2 separate regions of the Homo sapiens genome follow, and region 1 is linked to region 2. The links come from fine-mapping of genetic effects on gene expression. A gene starts in region 2. The other region holds a variant in brackets. All regions are shown on one strand. Distances are between the middles of the regions.

Evidence for each region. PIP is the estimated chance that this variant, and not a neighbour inherited with it, causes the effect. A credible set is the group of variants that fine-mapping cannot tell apart.
Region 1: its variant is the best candidate, but not a certain one, in a credible set for the expression of TF in sun-exposed skin (GTEx, PIP 0.54).

What each region holds. Positions count from the first base shown.
Region 1 is chr3:133,711,608-133,716,979 of GRCh38, forward strand. It overlaps a transcript of TF not described here. Among named protein-coding and RNA genes, the nearest start is that of TF, 32 kb to the right of the region's middle. The variant G/A (reference allele first, on the strand shown) is at 3,019.
Region 2 is chr3:133,743,814-133,749,185 of GRCh38, forward strand. It overlaps TF (transferrin), which reads left to right and starts at 2,580. Exons shown (of 17, transcript NM_001063.4): 1 at 2,580-2,670; 2 at 4,599-4,771. The coding sequence starts at 2,628.

The DNA of each region.
Region 1 (5,372 bases), 32 kb before region 2:
TCCTCTAGCCCCAGCTGCCCTCATTTCCCCTGAACTTCTCCAGGAGCCTGCCACCTGAACTCCACATCCGCTCTGGTTTCCATCCACCCTGTTGCCAGGCCAATCTTTGCAAAGTGCAGATATGACCATATCCAGCTTACTGCCCCTGGCCCAGCATTGTCTAAAACCCTTCACAGACTTCTCATCTCTCTAACGATAAAGAACAAAACTAATGACAGTAAAAGGGTCTGGACCCTGCCCCCCACTGCACTCACCGTCATTTTCTTGGTGGTTTAGTCCTGAAGGCCTCCATGAGGCTCTCTGTGCCGTGCCTCCACCCCACCCCAACACAGGCCTGTGCAGATGCTGGTCCCCTGTCTGGAGGGCTCTTCCCCTCCACTCTTCACTTGGGTAACTCCTACTCACTCTTCATGTCTCGGCTTAAACCTTCTCCCTGACCCCTAGGGCTGCAAGGGGCTCTTTTATTGTAGCTTCATGGAACCCTATAATTTTTTCCCAGAGCAAAGAGGGAAACATGAATTTACTGGTGTGGTTACTTGAGTTCTGACTATCGCCCTACAGGCTGCAAGTTTTCAAGAGGGCAGAGCCTGTGTCTGATTTCCTCATGGTGGTGCCCTGGAGCCCAGCACAGGGCTTGGCAGCTGTGCCTCTCTAGACTCTTCCTGGACTTGAAGCTGTGATGGCACACCTTGTGAAAAAGGGCAATGGCAGCAGAGCCCAGAAAACATGTGCTCCGGGTTCTGCGAGCCAGGACTTCTCTTTTGTCCCCTCACTGTTAAACTCTGTGTCCATCTTTCGATGCCACTGCCCTGTGCTGGGATGGAGTAGACCCCTGTGAGCTCACAGACCCTTGATCCAACTTGAGTCAGTTCCCCTTTACTTAGCTCCAGCTGGAACCTTTTTTTTTTAATTCCATAAAGTCTTGCTTTTAATAATATGTTACAAATAACTGAATGTGTCTTTATCAGGCAATTTTGGGGACAGAATCTGAGGCTTTCTTGCTAACACAGGCAGGGAGGGCTGATCCTGACCTCTGGTTGTCCTTTCTCGCAGATGATTTCTTCAGTCGCAGTTGTGCCCCTGGGTCTAATCCGGATTCCCCTCTCTGTGCTCTGTGTGGTGGCAGGTGCAATCCTGCCCACATATGGGCTTACAACAGCCAGGAGAGATACTACGGCTCCAGTGGGGCTTTCAGGCAAGTAATGTCTGTGCACCACCTTTATCTTTGCACCAAGCCAGTACATTTCTTGTCCTGTCACTTCTTCCATCATCCCAGCATCTGGCTGCTGCATTTGGAAGGAGCCAGAATCTAGGAAACAGAACTACTGCAAACTTTGAATGGCTCCAATGACTCAAGTCCTGCTCTTCTCTAGGGCACTCTCCTGCAGACCCAGATGATTTAGGGCACCTTAGGGCACCTAGGGAGAAGCAAGAATGATGGCGGCAGAGTCACAACTCTAGTTCTACTTTTGCCACTTTCTTCTGTGTGACTGTGGACAAGTCAAGAATCCATCAGAGCCTTGGTTTAAAATCACAGGGGGGACACCAGACACCTCACTTCTTACACTTGGCTGGTAAGTATATTTTAAAAATAGATATTCCTGGGCTCCTCCATCCATTCAAGAAATATTTATTGAGCACCTAATAGGTATTGTTCTAACTAGAGGTGTTACAGCAGTTAAGCTGTTACCAACCATGGGTTGTTGGGCTCTCAATGCAATAGAAATTGTCATAAGGCCAAGATAGTTTTCCCAGACAAGGCTTTGTTGGAGCTTATGCCCAGGAATATGGGAGGCAACACAAGAGAGAGAGAATTTTCTGGCTGGCTCCCCAGAGGGTGTTGAAAAGGAAGTTGTAAAGGGGCCGCGGTGAGAAAGGAGTGATGTCTAGGAATGTAGAGGCAGGGAACTTTTAGCACCTCCACAGTTTGATGACATGCTTCTTCATGCATCGCTTGTCTTATAAGCATGTTACATCTCCACCCCTGGGTGTGATTTTTAGTATTATAATGAAGCTAAAGTTAAGGATCAGTCATTCTCCTGGCCTTGCGTGCATGTGGGAGATAGTAAGATTTATGGTGGGAGCTGCTGCTTTTAGCTTCCTCAGGGTCCGGCAGTCAGCAGGTATGGCTCCTTGAGCAAGGTTTATGTTGCAAGGTCTGGAGGGGCTGGTTGGGGTCCCTGCCACCCATGGGGCCTCCCCTCTACCAGTTTGCAGTGAGGTCCTTGGTGGGGTATGGGGGGTACCAAGTCCTGTCCCTCTTCTGTCTCAAAGCCACACATAATACCTGTCCCTCCCCTGCTCCCAGTCTTCTGGGGAAAGTAGGACAACAGCACATAAATAAAGGGCAGGATACTTTCCAACTGTAAGTGCTACTGAGGAACCAAGGGAGGTGATGCATCAGCAACCAGTTTTAGAAATTTCAGAAAAGGTGGTCAGGGCAGGCCTCAGCAGGCAGAGGGGTCATGTGGGAATCAGGCCTGAGAAAACCTGGAGGAAGAGCAACGTAGGATGAAGGAACAGCAAGCACAAAGGCATGGGGGCAGGGCAAGTCATGCTGTGTGGAGGCCAGAGAAGAAGGTCTGTGGATGAGGGCACAGAGAGAGAGGCACTGGCTGTCTCGGAGCCCTGTTGGCCTGGCTAAAGACGTAGATTTAACTCTAGGTATTGTGGGCAGTGCTGGACCTTTGAGGAAGCAGGGCAGTGCTGTATGAATGAGTTATGTGAACAATGTATGAGGCTCTAGAAAGTTCTCTTTTATTCATAGACACCAGGGTATTCCACTACCAGACTACTTTGTCCTGCCCTCTCCAAAGTTTTCTCTCTTTCATAAGCCATGCATAAATTACATATTTTCACAGATCTACAACAACATATACTATTATTACATTAAATCTGGATGAAATTGCTTAATTTTTCTTTACATCAGAAGGTGCATTGGTGTTAGGCTTGATGGTCTGTCTAGAACCACAACTTCTTCCAAAATGAACATACACATAAAAAGCAGTCTTAGCTTCA[G/A]ACCTCTCATTCTCTCCATCTCCTACCTGTCTTTTCACTTCCTTGAGTTGTTTTTTTGTTTGTTTGTTTGTTTTTTTGATGGAGTCTTGCTCTGTCACCTAGGCTGGAGTGTGGTGGTGCGATCTCGGCTCAATGAAACCTCCGCCTCCTGGGTTGAAGCAGTTTTCCTGCCTCAGCCTCCTGAGTAGCTGGGATTACAGGTGCCCACCACCACACCCAGCTAATTTTTGTATTTTGAGTAGAGACGGGGTTTCACCATGTTGGCCAGGCTGGTCTTGAACTCCTGACCTCAGATGATCCACCCGCCTCGGCCTCCCAAAGTGCTGGGATTACAGGTGTGAGCCACCACACCCAGCCCTTTAAGTTTCTTGACTCCTCTAGCCATTCACTCCTGGCTGACCTGTGATCTATCAATCCCGCACCTTTCCCCGTGGTCTTTTTTTCCATCCTTTCTGAGCATACATTTCACAATCAACTGTGCCTGCACTTCCAGCCTGGCTGGTTTCCCTTTAAGTGATGAGGACCTTGTTAAATGAGCCATGTATCTCTAGTCCTCCCACTACCCCATTTCTCCTAGAAGACAATTCCATACTTTCTCCTCTCCTTAAGCCTCCAACACTTCTTCCCCCACCTTTCATACCTTTGTTTCCTATTTCTCCTAAGAAAAGAAATCGAAAGATAAATTCTACAACACCCTGCTGCCATATCTACCCACATGCCAGCATCTGTGGCCCTAGTCACTGCCTTCCCTCCTCCTACTGGGGTGAACTGGCTGTCTCCTCGCTAAGTCCTGTCCTGCACCGGTTCAGGATTGTTGCCCTGGCAGTTCTCCCTTTTTCTGTGGCAGCATCAAATCTTCTTCTCTACTAGATCATTTCCATCAGCATACAAAACATGCTGCTATGTTTTTCCATCTTAAACACAAATAACTAAGTAAAACCTCTCCACCTCACTTTCCTCTCCCATTTCTCCTCTTCTTTTTACAACAAAATTCCTTGAAAGAGTTAAATATCTTTGCTAACTCATATTTCTCCCCTTTAAATCTCCCCAGGACCCAGTTTAAGAATCTGTTCAGGCCCCAAACTGCCAACATGGAGTTGGTTTTATTATTGTTTTTCAATGATCTACAGAAAATATACCTCTTTATTGTCAGAGTATGGGCAGACTACTCCCACCACTCCAACCCCCTTGGTACACCACCGACCACTGTGGAGATGAAACTATACCAGTGATCTCTGTTGCTAAATCGAAAGGCCAGTTCTTGGTCCTTGTGTTGTTGCAGGATTTTTAAGGAATCAGCTTACACACTCTTTAATTTCTTTTAATTCCTGTTCCAGTGTTAATTGATCTACCAGCATCACTGGCAGCCCCCATCACTTCCTCCTCTTGGATTTCTTCCCTGGCTTCTGGAATACCACACTCTCTTGGATTCTCCCTTCCCCCTCCTGACACTGCACCTCAGTCTCTTTTGCTGGTTCTGTCCACTTCCCCAGCCTCTACATGCTGGCATGACTCAGGGCTCTGTACTTGGAGTTCTTCTCTCTGCTGCCCATTCTCTTGGTGGGTTTATCTCTGTATGCTGACAATTCCCAAATTTAACATTCTAGTTCTGACATTTTCCTGAAACCCCAGACCTGTAGATCCAGCTGCCTACTGGCTATCTCCACTTGGATTTCTAACCACCATCTCAAACTTAAATGTCCAAAACTGAGCTCCTGAAACTCCATACACTCCCACCCAAGTGCTGCATCCTGTAGCCCACCTCATCTCAGTTAAGGGCAACTCTATTTTTCATTTTGGAAAAAATGTCAATACCTTGCTGCTTTCTGTGCCTGCCCTTGTTCTCTCTCACCCCATATCTCGTCCATCACCAAATTATATTGGTTGTACCTTCTCAAGGTATCCAGAATCGATCTCTCTGCCCATCTCCACTGATACCATTCTGACCTAAACCACCATCGTCTCTCCCCAGATTTTTATCATAGCCCCTTGACAGGTCTCCATGCATCTGTCTTGTCCCACTCTCCTCCACAACACATGAGCCAAAGTGATTCTGTTAAACTTAAAGCATTACATTAATACTTCTCTGCTCAAAGCCCACCAGTGATTTCCCATATCACTCGGAGTAAAAGTTAAGGTGCCTCTTTGATCTGTAAGGTTCTTTGTAATCTAAGAGGCCTTTGCAACCTCATCTACTTCTTTCCCTGTGCACTCTCTGCTCCAGTCAGCTTGGCATCTCGGCTGTTCCTTGAAGACCTCAGGCACACTCCTTCCCCGGGGACTTTGCACTTGGTCCTACCCCCATCTGGAGTGCTTGTCTTCCTCAGATCATCATGGCTAGTTTCCTCATTTTA
Region 2 (5,372 bases):
CCTCTTACCTTCACATGCTCCTATAGACATATACAGGCATAGGCACCCCATACAGCTAGGGCCATGCACACATGTACACCCCAAAGCTGGCCTCACCCCTGCCTACCCCATCCAAGGAATGGCAAGCACGAAGCTCTGCTGTTGTCCTCTTGAGCAAAAGCCAAGGCCCTGGCCTCTCCATCTAGGTGTGTGTAGATGACGTGGGAGCACCAGTTCTCTATGTCTTGTCTGAGCTTCCTTCATATCCCATGAGGCTGTATATTTCCTTCCCAGCACCTGTCTTGGGCTTGGACTCAAAGGACCCTTCTGAGGACAGGGCATAGAGCTGGCTGCTCTGGAGAGGACTCAGCCTGGCCAGTAGGTAGTTGCTCCCTGCTGAGGGGCTCTGGCTAGGCTATGGGCCTGTGGCTGGAGGACTGGCCTCAGCGGGGCTTAGTCTACGAATGTAGATGGGCTCCAGAAAAGGAGAATCACTGACCATCTTCTTTCCATGCCCTGCGTTGAGCTTCCCTGAGTTTGTGGCATGGGCTCAACCTTTCGTAACTGCACTTCCTGCTCTCTGGCAGACCCTGCAAGCTTACTACAGGGCCTGTCCATGCATCAGCTGTATGTGTGCATGCTGCTCTGCTGGGTGCCTTCCAGTTAGCCTTGCCCCTGACTTTTCCTGCTCATCTCACATCCTTACCTCAAGGTCTCCAAATGAATCCAGACCACTGCCTAGAGCCTGCTGCAGGGGCAGTAGGAATATGGCCCTCATGCTAACAGTCTTCTTTCCCTATGGCTCAAGCACAAGGGGCCCGTGGACGGGCAAGGGGGGAGTAAGACAGGGCAGCAGTGGTCACTCTCCCTCGCTGGTGAGGCTGATGTGTTGGGAAAGCCAGACTTGACTTCTGTCCTCACTGTAAACAGAAAGCTTCTGTAGTGGACTCTAAAGTGGGAGGTATGTAACCCCTTTGCATATGAGATAATCTTTTGGAGTGTGGGAGAACATAATCTAACTTCCAGTTATATTTATTGTTATTGCAAAAGATTAACAAATTATCATTCATTCATATTGAATGTGTGAATTGGCCCTATCTCCCACCTGAGTCTGCAGTCATGACAGATGGAGCCTTTCAGGTGTCCTAAGGGAAGATGGGGTTCACCTCACAATGCTAAAGGTGAAAAGGGGAGTGCCGACCCTGCCCTTTGTTTTGGCATTTTTATTTCCATACTTTGTGGTTTGTATGTGCCCAGTTAAACGGATGTACAGATTAGATAATCTGGCTTTAACTCCAACCTTCACGAGATGCACACATGCCTTAAAAAGATTCTTACAAAGAAACTAGAATTAGGAGACAATTCTGACAACACAAAAACAAGTGAACAAAAATCAAATGACTGACCTGACGTGTCCACTAGGCTTGATATGAGCTTGGTCAACTAAAACATGAGACAGAATGAATGACCATCTGGTCAGGTTGGATAAGAAGTAACTTTTGGCAAAATCTCTGAAGTCTGGATTTACACTTCGTGGAAGGAATCTTGACCTTTCCCCAAGTATATTATGCCTTGAGATAATAATCCTGTATAAGGCCGCATAAGCAAAACGACATTTGAAAATGAGTTTCATCTTTAGCTCATCCTTTTACAAATTTCTATTCCTTGTGCATGATTGAAGTGTACACATTTTTTAGTTAAAATATAAGCATATAGAAGGCACAAGTTCAATATTTTTCATGATAAGGATGTGTAATTAAACTGGTTAGGAGACTCATCGACTAGAGGGGGACATGGTGGCCCCAGGCTGTAAGAACAGGCCACACCGTCCACTGGGCCGCTTGCTTTGTGCTAAGATGACACTTTGTTCTGAGCCTCACAGTGTCTTGACCATGTTCCTGGAACCTTCTTGTTGGAGGGAGTTCATCTTCCCCTATGACTCTGTCCCTAGTCTAAGGTGTCCCACAGGAAGCTTGAGGGCGGGAAGTTTTCCAGCCCAGGAGCCTGAGCTCAGCGGGGCAGGAAGAGGGAGCAGCTCCTCCGTGGGGGACCTTTGAGAGCCCAGGAGCAGGATTTCGAGGGACACCTGGTGGGGAGCAAAAGGTGCTGAGTCTGTCTTTGACCTTGAGCCCAGCTTGTTTCTCCTGCATCCTCCCCCAAAAGGGGCTTTGCCTGTCATTCTGCAGTTCTAGTGTGGGGTCTGGGCGCAGTTCTTTTCCCTCTCCAGCCTCGGAGTCTTCCTCTGTGGACTGCGCAGATAGGACTGGTGGCACGGACCAGCTCTGCAGCCCTGGAGTCAGGAGCAGAGCCCCCCGGCTCCCAGCCCGCCGTAGCCGCTCCTGGCACCGAGCGAGCCGCGATGACAATGGCTGCATTGTGCTTCATGTCCCTTCCCATCAACATTTCTGTGCTGGACTCCTTCCACTCGCGGGTCGTCTCCAGAGCTCAGAAAATGAGGTGATCAGTGGGACGAGTAAGGAAGGGGGGTTGGGAGAGGGGCGATTGGGCAACCCGGCTGCACAAACACGGGAGGTCAAAGATTGCGCCCAGCCCGCCCAGGCCGGGAATGGAATAAAGGGACGCGGGGCGCCGGAGGCTGCACAGAAGCGAGTCCGACTGTGCTCGCTGCTCAGCGCCGCACCCGGAAGATGAGGCTCGCCGTGGGAGCCCTGCTGGTCTGCGCCGTCCTGGGTGAGTGCGGGCACGGGGTAGCACCGCAGAGTCGCTGGCCCGCGCGTTCCCTGCAACCCGGGCGGCCACCGCGCAGCCTGCATGCACTCCGCGCTCAGGCTGGAAGCCTGGGTGTCTGGGTGCCTTTCCATTGCCTCTCTACGCCCCACCCCTGGCCTTTGCTTGGGCTTCTAGACACCTTTCACTGCACTCACTGTCTTCTCCCCCTCCTCCTCTTTGTCCAGTAAATCTTGCAGCAGTGAAATACAATAAATCAGAGCACGTCTAACCAGGTTATCAAAACCCTTTGCTGCTGCCTCTTGTCAAGTCCGAACTCCTTAGCATGGCATTCAAGGCCTCCCGGGTCTGACCATTCCCCTTTCAGAGGCTGATGTCCCCTGGGTGCCCTGGGAGCTGTAGATGTCCTGCCAAGGAAGCGGTGCCATCGAGCGGTCAGAGCATGGGGTTTGAAGCCAGACTTCTTGGATCCAAGTCCTGGCCGGCTCCTCACCAGGGAGGGGGTCATCACAGCACTTGCCTGGGAGGGTCAAATGAGGGTCAGCGAGGTGGCAGATGCTGAGTACCAGTGGCAGATGTTGCACACATCCTGCTATGGGGCAGTGGCTGACGCCACACTCCCCGACCTCCTGAGGTGGGGCCCCCTTCATACTCTAACTTCTGCCTGCCATTCATGGGGCATTTGTCACACTGTTGGGGCTTCCACGTTTAGTTTTCTCTCCCCATAAGCTAGCAATTCCTTGAGAGAGGACCCCACGTTACTTGCCTTTATCCCCGCACAGAGCACTTCACAGGCTGTGCAAGGTAATGCTCCACTGAGGACACATTCTCGCCTATGGGAACTCTGGAGGCAGGGCTTTGTGGAGGGGCTGCCACAGGCTTATGTTGCCTCCTAGGATTTCCCATGGGCCAAGAGGGAAAATGGGGGTCGCTGGGGTGGCCATCCCTGGTGGCCCCTCCTCATGCATCCTGGAGAGCTGTGGGCCTCCTCTCCACAGGCTTTGTGGATCTTCTTCAGAGCCAGTGAGTCAGCCTTGCTGTGGTGGCCCACAAGGAGTGGAGATGACAGAGGGCCTTGGGGACAGGGCAAAAGCTCATGTGATAGGGATGCTGTCTCTGCAACCACATGGATTTTAATAGTTACCCATGGCTGGCTTCAGCTTTTTTTGTGAATGGCAGCCAAAAAGTGTGGTGAAAATGGAGGGATAGTTCAGTGGAGACAGAGGGGAGACTGTTGAATTTGTGGAGTTTTTAGTTCTTCCTAAACAGAGAGCAACAGACAAGAGTTACAGACAAATTAATTCTTTTCGTTAATTTACCCTCAACTACTGGCCAAGAAGGGGTGTAACTCAGAATGTTTTCTTCTTTTGTGCCCTGAGTAGCAGACCCAGAGTCTGGAGACCCAGATTCTAGGCCTGGCTTGGCCAACGACAAGCAGGGTGACCTTGGGTTAAAAAAAAAAAAAGGCATCATTCTCTGAGTCTCACTCCCTCTTCTCAAAAAGATGGCAATTCCTCCCCCGCTGGTTTTCCATAGTTGAGGTAGCAAGCCAATGTGTTGGGGTAGCTGAAAACGCCCTGTGCATACTGAGGCTTATGTTCCATGGGGGGCCAGGGGCCAGGACAGTGATGGGAGGAGACAAGGCGGATACAGAGGAGCAGATTGTCATCTCCAGCTGGGAGGTGATGGCCATGCCTGCACCCCTCTGGCCAGCAGAGGGTGGTCAGTAGGAAACTGGGAGGCCATTAGGGCAACCTTCTATTGGCTCAGACTCAGAATGCAGTAGAACTTGTGCCCTGTAGTGTTCATGGACAGGAGTGAGAGGAGGACAGGACTGAGGGGATGTGGCTGTCAAGGCCTTTCTAGGGGCGATGCTGTCTCTCCCTCAGCATAGGGAGTGGGCCCTTCCACCTCTGGCCTCTCTCCCCCAGGGCTGTGTCTGGCTGTCCCTGATAAAACTGTGAGATGGTGTGCAGTGTCGGAGCATGAGGCCACTAAGTGCCAGAGTTTCCGCGACCATATGAAAAGCGTCATTCCATCCGATGGTCCCAGTGTTGCTTGTGTGAAGAAAGCCTCCTACCTTGATTGCATCAGGGCCATTGCGGTAAGTCGCTGCTGCCTAAAAGAGAGTGGAAGAAAGCCATACTTTCTCTGTTTCCAGTCACTTTGGAACAATTCTTTACTCACAGGTAGGAGGCTGATATATGGGGCAGTCAACCTTGACTTACTAAAATCACTTCAAAAGTGGAAATGGGGAGGTTTTCTTTAATGTGTCTGGAAAGCAAAAGTCAAAAAGCACATTAACTTTTGCTTTCCAGACACAGTAGACGCAAGGGTGACTGTTTTGAGACCCTAGGTTCTCTGAACTTGGCGAAAATATAAGAATGCCTGCTATCAGGCTGGGCGCGGTGGCTCATGCCTGAAATCCTAGCACTTTGGGAGGCTGAGGCAGGTGGATCACCTGAGGTCAGGAGTTCGAGACCAGCCTGGCCAACATGGCGAAACCCCATCTCTACTAAAAAATATAAAAATTAGCTGGGCATGGTGGTGCATGCCTGTAATCCCAGCTACTTGGGAGGCTGAGGCAGGAGAATCACTTGAACCGGGGAGGCAGAGGTTGCAGTGAGCCAAGATCCTGCCACTGCACTCCAGCCTAGGTGACAGAGTGAGGCTCCATCTCAAAATAAATAAATAAATAAGAATGC